Regions from separate parts of the Homo sapiens genome. Here region 2 is linked to region 1. The links come from fine-mapping of genetic effects on gene expression. A gene starts in region 1. The other region holds a variant in brackets. All regions are shown on one strand. Distances are between the middles of the regions.

Region 1 (4,389 bases):
AGCCTTCTCCTGAGAAAAGGGTGGGAAATGCTTTGGGGGAGGCCTGGGCACTGGCCGGAGCTTGGGGTTCTGATCCCTGGGTTGCCGCTTAGCCGTGGGAGCTGCAGTCACCTGAGCTCCTGGTGCCCAGGGTGAGGGGTGCTCTCAGCTTCTCTGGCTGACTTCACTGTCTCCTCACCCCTCCCCTGCCCCACCGCAGTCAATCATGCTCCTAACCTGGCCCTGCTGGCTGCCCTGGCTGGACTGGCTTGAACCTGAGGAGTGCCCAGGCCTCAGGCCACGAAGACCAGCTCAGGCCACTTTCCTGGACAGTGAAAAGACACAAAGCAACCCAGAAGGTGACAGAAGCTTCTGAATATATCTGATCACATTCCACAGCGCAGCACGGGCTGCCTCGTTGTTATTGTTGTTTTTTAAATGAAATCCTCCTCTCTGACTGTTTCTGTTTCTTTCCCCAAATCAGTGAAGTGCAACCCCCAACTTTTAAAATGCATGTATTTAGTTTTTAATTGGGTGTCGACTTTGACACAGTAAAAGGTTTTCATTTGCTATTATGTGAGAAGAATCTACGCACATAAACTGCGTGTTCAATGTGCGGAAGCAGGGAGTAGGGGTCCGCCCACCCCCCACCCCGCACATGGGTGAGGACTGTTCCATGTGCAGGAGCAGAAAGCAGGGGTCCACCCACCCCCCACCCCACACATAGGTGAGGACTGTTCCATGTGCAGGAGCAGAAAGCAGGGGTCCACCCACTCCCCCACCCCATATGTGGGTGAGGACTGGACCCTATTCATTTCCTTTCTTCCCTTTTCTGATCATTTTTATGACAAAATATAGCAAAATGGAAAAACTGCGTAAGCAATGCTGGTTTTATGAAACATCAGCGTTCACCTACATTTGCTTCAGACTTTCTTTTAAGGAATAAAATATATGAAAGGCAGGGAGGAGAGCTAAGTCAGCAAACTCGCAAACTCGGAGAAAAGAGAACGGGGCCTGGCTTCTTGAAGAAGACTCAGCTGGCGGGCTCCCTGCTGTGGGCACTGGGGGCTACGGGTCCGGCTCTCACAAGCACGGCGGTGCTAAATGCTTTCCTGAACACACAGTCTCGTGAATGACTGTCAGGTTGCGGTTCCCTCTTCCGCGTTCATGGCTGTGATTGGCACGCGGTTCTCCTGGGACCAGTGCCCTGCAGTGACTTCCTAGAGTGCCTCAGGTGAGCGGGCCCGTGCTTTCCAGGGATAAACACAACTTTGTTCTTCTAAGTTACACAGTCAGCACCCATGGGTGAACCCATCGGGGAAGGCATACACTTGTATAATGTAGAAGAACAAAGTTGCATTTATCTCCAGGAAGGGATAAAGTTAGAAAAACAAAATAGCATCAACAACGACCATGTTATTTAGAATGCTGGTGTCTATATTTGTAGGTGAAACTGGTCTCTCTCATATTCTTTCTGTTTGGTCAAACAGAGACATTTTAGCTTGAACAAATAAGCACAGGGAATAAGTAACTGCACAGCGTTGCATCTTGGAAGCTGGGTTATTGCCTACGTCTCGCCTCATTTATCCCTGTGTGGGGGGCCTGGGTGGGACCCCTGCTTATAAGATGTGCTGCTGTCACCCAAGGTCCCATGTAGAAACAGGGTCCCACCACAGGCGCTGGGCAGAGGCCTGACCCGCTGCTGGCTTTAGCGCATCCCCCTCCATTTCTAATTTCTCACAGATGGAGGGAGGGGGCAGCATTGTAAACGTCTGGTGTTAATCTCTTTAAAAACCGAACATAAAACAACTTTTAAGGGATTTTTTTTATTAACTTCAAAAACATGACATGCCCGCATTTCCACTCCTCATTCAGTTCCCAAAGAACATTCATGGCTCCTGCTGTGTGCCAGGTGCTGTGGGAACGGGCCCAGGGCAGCCGCTGGGGCGCCGAGGAGCACAGGAGCTGATGGCAGGCCCAGGGGAAGGGCCCACAGTGGGCTGCGTCTCACCGAGGGCAGGGGCTGCCTGAGCAAGGACCCAGAGGTCTGGGTGCAGGTGGAGGGTCATGGGGACGGGGGAGCCCAGAGACCAGCCTGCCATCTGCAATCCTAGAGTGTCACTCAGGCTTGGGGCCGGGAGAGCAGCCAAGAGCGCGAGGGGAAGCAGCAGCAACTCTGGTGCTGGGGAGGACCCAGCTTCTCAGGACAAAGTGGGGAAGGCGGGGCAGGCTCTGCACACCCAAGGTTGGCTGGCCGAGTGGAATTTTCTTTCTTCAAACTTTTCTCAGATTCCCCTGAATCTGGAATCACAGGACATCTTAAAAGGAAACCCAAGTTCATGTTTGCTCCAAAGCATCTAATAGAGATGACACTAACATGATCTTGATGCAAATGCCACCGAAGCTATTTCATCAGGGTCAGAGGCAAAATTCAGTGTACTGAAATTCCCATCACAACGCAGGCACCTGGCCAGATCTGAGCCCGGGGTGGTCAATGCTGATGTGGGCCAAGGGCCCCCACCACCTGGGAGTTTTCAGAAATGGAAAATGATCACAAGGTTCCTCACAGGGATGCCGGCCAGCATTCATCATTGAGCGTGGAGGAGATGCGCTCACTTGGATGCCAAGGAGGACAGGCAGCGCCCTCTGAAGGTAAGAATTGCTCCCTGGATGTAGCCTCATCTGGATAACCTACACAACTCATCTTTCCATCCAGTCTACTCAAGAGCTATTAATGCTTTAATTCCTAAGGCATTCATTCTTTAATCTGTTCCTTAAGCTGTTTTCTTGGAGATTTGTACAAGTTCTGCAAATTAATTCAAATTTCATCTTAAAAGGAATTTGTCAACTGGACTGAGAGACAATCAAAACAGTCAGACACGGAACATGCTGAGCGCCACGCTGCTGCCGGGGAATTCTCTTCTGAAGCTTGGGTGACGCTCCTGCCCGCCTCACAGGCACACAGCTGAACCTCCTGTGCGTGCATCACCTGAACGGTCACAGCTCGACCCAAGTCTGCTCTTAAATTCCACCACCTGTGAAACAGCCAGCGAGCAGCCTGGCCCAGCACTCCCCACTCCCAAAAGACAGGACCCTATGGGGGAAGAAACTGCTGCCCAAATCTTCTGAATGTCGCTTACAAACTCCTTTTTCTGCTAAAACCTTCCATTCTGTGACAGCACAGAGAGGATGATGCAGACTGCAGCTGGGAAGCTGCTTCCTACTCCTCCAGGCCCCTGCTGGGTCACCCTAGAGCTGCCAAGGCCAGCAACTGAGGAGGAGGAGGGCAGGCAGGCAGGGCTCCTTCCAGCCACTCCAGCTTCTCCAGCAGTTTAGCGCATGCTGGAAGGTGCTGGCGCTGATCCGCCCCTGGCAGTGCTGGTGAGAGAGGCAAGTTACTCCTCGCAGATCTGTGTCTCCAGCTCGGTGCGCGTCTCCCTACGGACATGGAAGAGTGCGGGTCCCCTGAGGAGCAGGGAGGCGAGGGGCCCTGCAGAGCAGCCACCTTCTGCTGAGAAGGAGCCTGGACTCACTGGCACAGTGCAGCCAGAGGGGGCTTCGGTGGGCACCGAGGCTGGGGAGTCGGGCTCACCAATGCGCAGAATGCTGTCGCTGTTCTCACTACGGCACCTCCTGCATTTTCACTCATTGTGGGGAAGGGATGTTCACACTGCCTTGGTTTACCGGACTGCCACGTGAAACTCCACTATCTGCTAAAGTAAGCTAAGAGCAGAGCAGAGAAAATCAACAGCAGCACACGCCGCCTGCATCCCATGCGCACCTCCGGCCACGGCCATTGCTCACCTCTGAAGACAATGCTGCATTTATGTTGGATTCAATAACACAAATGGAGCGTTCACAGGGCAAGGAGACCCACCCCAGGGCTCCTGAGGGCTTCCTAATGAGGATCCTGGGAGCCGGGTGGGTGGGGATGAGGCCCAAGCTGTCCCAGGCCCGGCCCCACACACCAGCTGCAGAGATGAGAACCACAATCGCATTCACGCATTCGTGCGCCTACGGCTGTGTCAGACGTGACTTGTGCTATTTCTGTATCAAAAACCATTCAAAATGCCACGAGTTCCCAACAGAAGCTGCTAGTGCTTTTGACCCAAAGCACCCTGAAGAAAACAATAAAACCTTCTCTCCTTAAAGAATGCAGCATCAAAACAAAAAAGTCTGTATTCTCATGAATATTCTACGGTACAGCAGAAAACGGCTTTTATAGGTTGTGCCTTGAGAAACATATTAAGACAATCAGACTCCTGACGTCAGTGAGAGCACAAAGGCCGCATTCAGAGTCCAATGGGAGACGGTCAGTGTGCTGTGAATGAATTCTCAATCACAAACAGAAAAACCTGTTAGTCTCTCTCTCTCGCTCTTTTAAAATAAATGTTCATAAAGAAGCATACT
Region 2 (4,389 bases), 70 kb before region 1:
ATGCACCACCTTGCCTGGCTAATTTTTGTAGAGACGGGATTTCACCAGGTTGCCCAGGCTGGTCTCGAACTCTTGAGCCAAAACGATCCACCCACCTTGGCCTCCCAGAGTGCTGGGATTACAGGTGTGAGCCACCATGCCCAGCTTTAAATTTCAAACTTAAAGAAAAACTTCAAGAACTCTGTAAGAAAATCTCAAACGTCCTTCCCCTATGCACAGATGAATGGCGGTGGAGGTAGTGGGGGTCATAGCGGGGGTCAGCCTCTCTTCCTGGGGGGCTGTTTCAGGGGCCCCAAGGCCACTGCAACCTGCCTGCCTGAGGCTTTCGGCAGCCGCGTCTACCGTGCTGTGCATCAGGAGACCTCCCCACTGTTCCAAGGGCTCTTGGATGGCCCTTCCCCGGCTGGCTGCGGATGGCGTGTGCTGCCAGGGGCCGCATCTCTTTAGTGTCCTTTAGTGACAACATTCCCAGGTCTTTTTCCTCCCTTTCACGAGGATGAAGCCTCTGAAGTGTCCCCCGCTGCCGCACGCCCCTCGGCCTGGAGGAGGGATCATCTCCACACCGTGGGCCTCCGGCGAGGGCTCTCAGGCAGGGCCTGAGGAGGATGTCACTTTGGCAGTGGTGCCACGTCAGAGCCCTCTGTGACGCAGGCCAGGCCCCTTGCCTTGGCACTGACGCAGGCGCCTGTGGGTCACCTCCCTGGGCCATGGCTGCAAACAAAGCCTGCTTCTCTCTCTCTCTCTCCTTTGACATTCAGTTCTGAGTCTCACTGGCTGGGCTGTGGGCTGGGGCTGCACTGCAGAGCTGGCTTTGGGAGGTGAGCCGGACGCGGGCAAACAATTGAAGCAGCTCTGTGCAGCCCGAAGGCCTTGGGGACACTGAGAGCCCCTTTCATCAATTCAGGAAGAACAAATGCACCTCCATATTTGGAATAATTACATTTTTAAAAAGTCAGGCTGGAGTTCACGGCCAAAACCGAACTGGTAAACTGCCAGTATTTTAAAACAATCGGACACACTCGTAATTAGACCACCCAAAATATGAGTCCAAGTTTTCATATTCAAAACCGAGGATGTCAAGTTAAAGGGAAACACACCCGAGGCCCTCCGCTCTGCAGGAGGCAGGTTCTTGTGCAGAGTCCAGAAACCATGGGAAGAACCACCTTGAGAAGCAAGGCTTCTTGCTGTAGGGGTGGAGGACACCTTCCAACGAACGTCCTCTTTTAATAGAAAGAGGTATTTCGCCTGGACACACATCACCCACTGCTCGCAAACCAGACATAACTGAGGCCAAGTCCGGACGTGGCCAGCGAACACGGAGGGCCAGTTTCACCTGCAGAGTTCCAAGGTCCACTCGCCCTCTGATGGTGTGCGTTCTCCAGAAAGTTCCTTCATGCAGCAAACCCTTATAAACACCACTGCATACAAGGCACGGGCAACAGAAGCTGACACAGTTGGAAAACATCTGCCACCATCCCGACCACAGGCTGGGGAGAGGAGAGCAGAGCCAGCTCGGGGTCGATCCTGTCCACCTGGTGGAGTTTTCTCAGCCAAAAGGGGCAGCTCTGCAGGCTGCAGGCCTCGGGAAAACTAGAGTGGCTACATATGGCTGCAGGGAACACCAGGGCTAGGCACGGGCCGCCTCTCTTTCTTTTTTATTCACAGTGATGTTTCCAAAACAACTGCCCTCTAAGGTACAGGCTGAAGGAGGGGCAGACCAAGCCGGCCCCAGCTGCAACCCCAATGTAGGCTGGAGCAGCGCAGTGGGACAGGAGGGTTCACAGCTGCCAGAGCTGGGCAGATGCCCTCAGGGAACAAGCCCCTGGGGACGTCATCCTCCAAGAGGAAGGGCCGGGACGTCAGTGTTAGGCGGCCCTGGG[C/T]AAGATTCTTGTCTTCCTGGGCATCCTGGGAAAACACTGTCTAAACGTTTCAATCAACTGTCATTCACTCCCGTAAATCAATCAGAGAACAAACTCCAGTGAGAGTACCCGGTTTCTAAATCCTTCAAGAGTATACGGCATGTGAATAGGTGTTTCCTGTCTTCCTCAAACCTCCTACCCCATCACTCAGATAATGACATAATAAAATTAACAAACCTAAGTTGGCATTAGGAAGACGGATGTGAAAGTGCTTTTGACACCTGGGAGTAAAGATGCCTGGCAGGCGCCCGACACGCCCACAGCCTGTGCCCTTCCCGTCCCAATGAGGGGATTTGCTGGGTGCCCCATCCATTTCTGATGCGTTCCCTGCTGTCCGCTGATGAGGGCTTGGGGGTGGAGGGGCATGTGGGGTGGGGGTGGTGAGCCTATTTTGTGGTGTCCAGTGGGCAGCAGGGGCCAGGCTGTGGCCTGTGCTGGGCATCTGGTCTGACGTGGCTGCCACCCTGGAGCAAGGCCCCAAGGGGCCCATCTCCTCAATCCTGAGCCTGCAGCCCCATGATGGCTCACACACTAGGATGGATTTGGGCCACAGCCGGCTGCCATCTCCCAGGGGCCTTCCCCGACTCAGCCCCACTGGACCGGACACCACGCAATCAAAGCCTTTGACCACTGCGCCAGGGCTGAGCTGACTCCTCTTCTGGGCTGGAACTGTGGGGCTTGAGAGAAGGAAATTGGGACCAGGCAGGCAGGAGGGGCTAATGGTATCAGGAGGTCAGGGCTGCGGGAAGAGGCAGCAGTGTTGGTGGTGTAGGGGTCTCTCCCCACGGCTTTACCTCTGCTCTTGCTGGGATCCTGGTATTTCACTTTCCAACTCCTGTCTACGTGTGCTAGGAAAGTCTATCTCCTCCCCAGTCCTAACCCCAATTTTTCACCCTCAGGAAAACCACAGAAGACCCTGAGCCTCCGGACAGGTGGACAACCCAGGACCGGTCCTGAAATCCAGGGAAGCAACGGGGGTGGGGTGGAGTGAGGGGGGCACTTTCACAGGAGAGACAATAAACGGAGAAATGATTCCGTCTGTCGCCAAATCTGCCAAAGGTTTCTCCACGTTCCCCTCCCATCAACTCATCCTCTTTCTTCCTTGTAACAGCTTTACTGGGATATAATTCACATACCATCCAATTCACGCTTTTAAATGATATCATTTGTTGTTTTTAGTATATTTACAGAGCTGTGCAGTCATCACCATATCTAATTTTGGAATATTTTCACCATCCCTAAGAAGAGGCGCTGTTCCCCAGAAATGCTCCCCATCTGCCCGCAGCAGCCCAGGCCTGGCTCCCACGAGTCTGTGTCCTGTCTCTGTGAGTCTGTCTGTTGGGGACGTTTTATGTGCATGAAATCATACCACACGCGGCCTCTCGTGCCTGGCATCCTGCTTCCAAGGCTTCCCGTGCTGCCGCTTGTCAGTGTCATTCCACTTTATGGCTGAATGACATTCCGGCGTGTGGCCACGTTATATGACATTCCGGCGTGCCGGCGTGTGGCCGTGCGTCATTCCACGTTATATGACATTCCAGTGTGCCGGCATGTGGCCGCACGTCATTCCACGTTATATGACATTCCGGCGTGCCGGCATGTGGCCGCACATCATTCCACGTTATATGACATTCCGGTGTGCCGGCGTGTGGCCGCGTTATATGACATTCCATGTTATGTGACATTCTGGTGTGCTGGCGTGTGGCTGCGTTATATGACATTCCATGTTATGTGACATTCTGGTGTGCTGGCGTGTGGCCGCGTTATATGACATTCCACGTTATGTGACATTCCGGTGTGCTGGCGTGCGGCCGCGTTATATGACATTCTGGTGTGCTGGCGTGTGGCCGCGTTATATGACATTCCATGTTATGTGACATTCCGGTGTGCTGGCGTGTGGCTGCGTTATATGACATTCCACGTTATGTGACATTCTGGTGTGCTGGCGTGTGGCCGCGTTATATGACATTCCATGTTATGTGACATTCCGGTGTGCCGGCGTGTGGCCGCGCATCACAGGATGGACACCTGGGCTGTTCCCATGTAATGTGGCTATCACGACTGATACGGTTATTACGACTGATACGGTTTGGATCTGTGTCCCTGCCCACATCTCCTGCTGAAGCCTAGCCCCCAATACTGGAGGTGGGACCTGGCAGGAGGTGGCTGGATCATGTGGGTGGATTTGGCATGAACGGCTGAACACCGTCTGTTGGTGCTGTCCTCACTGTAATGAGTGGGTTCTGGTGAGGTCTGGTCGGTTAGAAGTGTGTGGCCCCTCTCCCCACCCCTTGCTCCTGCTCTTGCCAAGTGATGTGCCCGCTCCCCCTTCGCCTACCACAGTTGAATGTTTCCTCGAGGACTCCCCAGAAGCAGAGGCCAACACCACGCTTCCTCTACAGCCTGCAGAACCAGAAGCCAATCAGACCTCTTTTCTTATGAATCACGCAGTCTGAGGTATTTCTCTACA

Direction of the effects. Positions count from the first base shown, and alleles are read on the strand shown. Sizes are in standard deviations (SD) of each study's normalised expression.
For the expression in tibial nerve of the gene that starts at base 2,100 in region 1, allele T in region 2 goes with a higher level than allele C (small effect, 0.29 SD a copy in GTEx).

What was found. PIP is the estimated chance that this variant, and not a neighbour inherited with it, causes the effect.
Region 2: its variant is the best candidate, but not a certain one, in a credible set for the expression of HDAC4-AS2 in tibial nerve (GTEx, PIP 0.54).

The regions. Positions count from the first base shown.
Region 1 is chr2:239,191,546-239,195,934 of GRCh38, forward strand. HDAC4-AS2 (HDAC4 antisense RNA 2) reads left to right here and starts at 2,100. Exons shown (of 2, transcript NR_198956.1): 1 at 2,100-2,631; 2 at 2,817-4,389. The region is part of intron 3 of HDAC4 (histone deacetylase 4); the gene reads right to left.
Region 2 is chr2:239,121,111-239,125,499 of GRCh38, forward strand. The region is part of intron 12 of HDAC4 (histone deacetylase 4); the gene reads right to left. Among named protein-coding and RNA genes, the nearest start is that of MIR4441, 37 kb to the left of the region's middle. The variant C/T (reference allele first, on the strand shown) is at 1,881.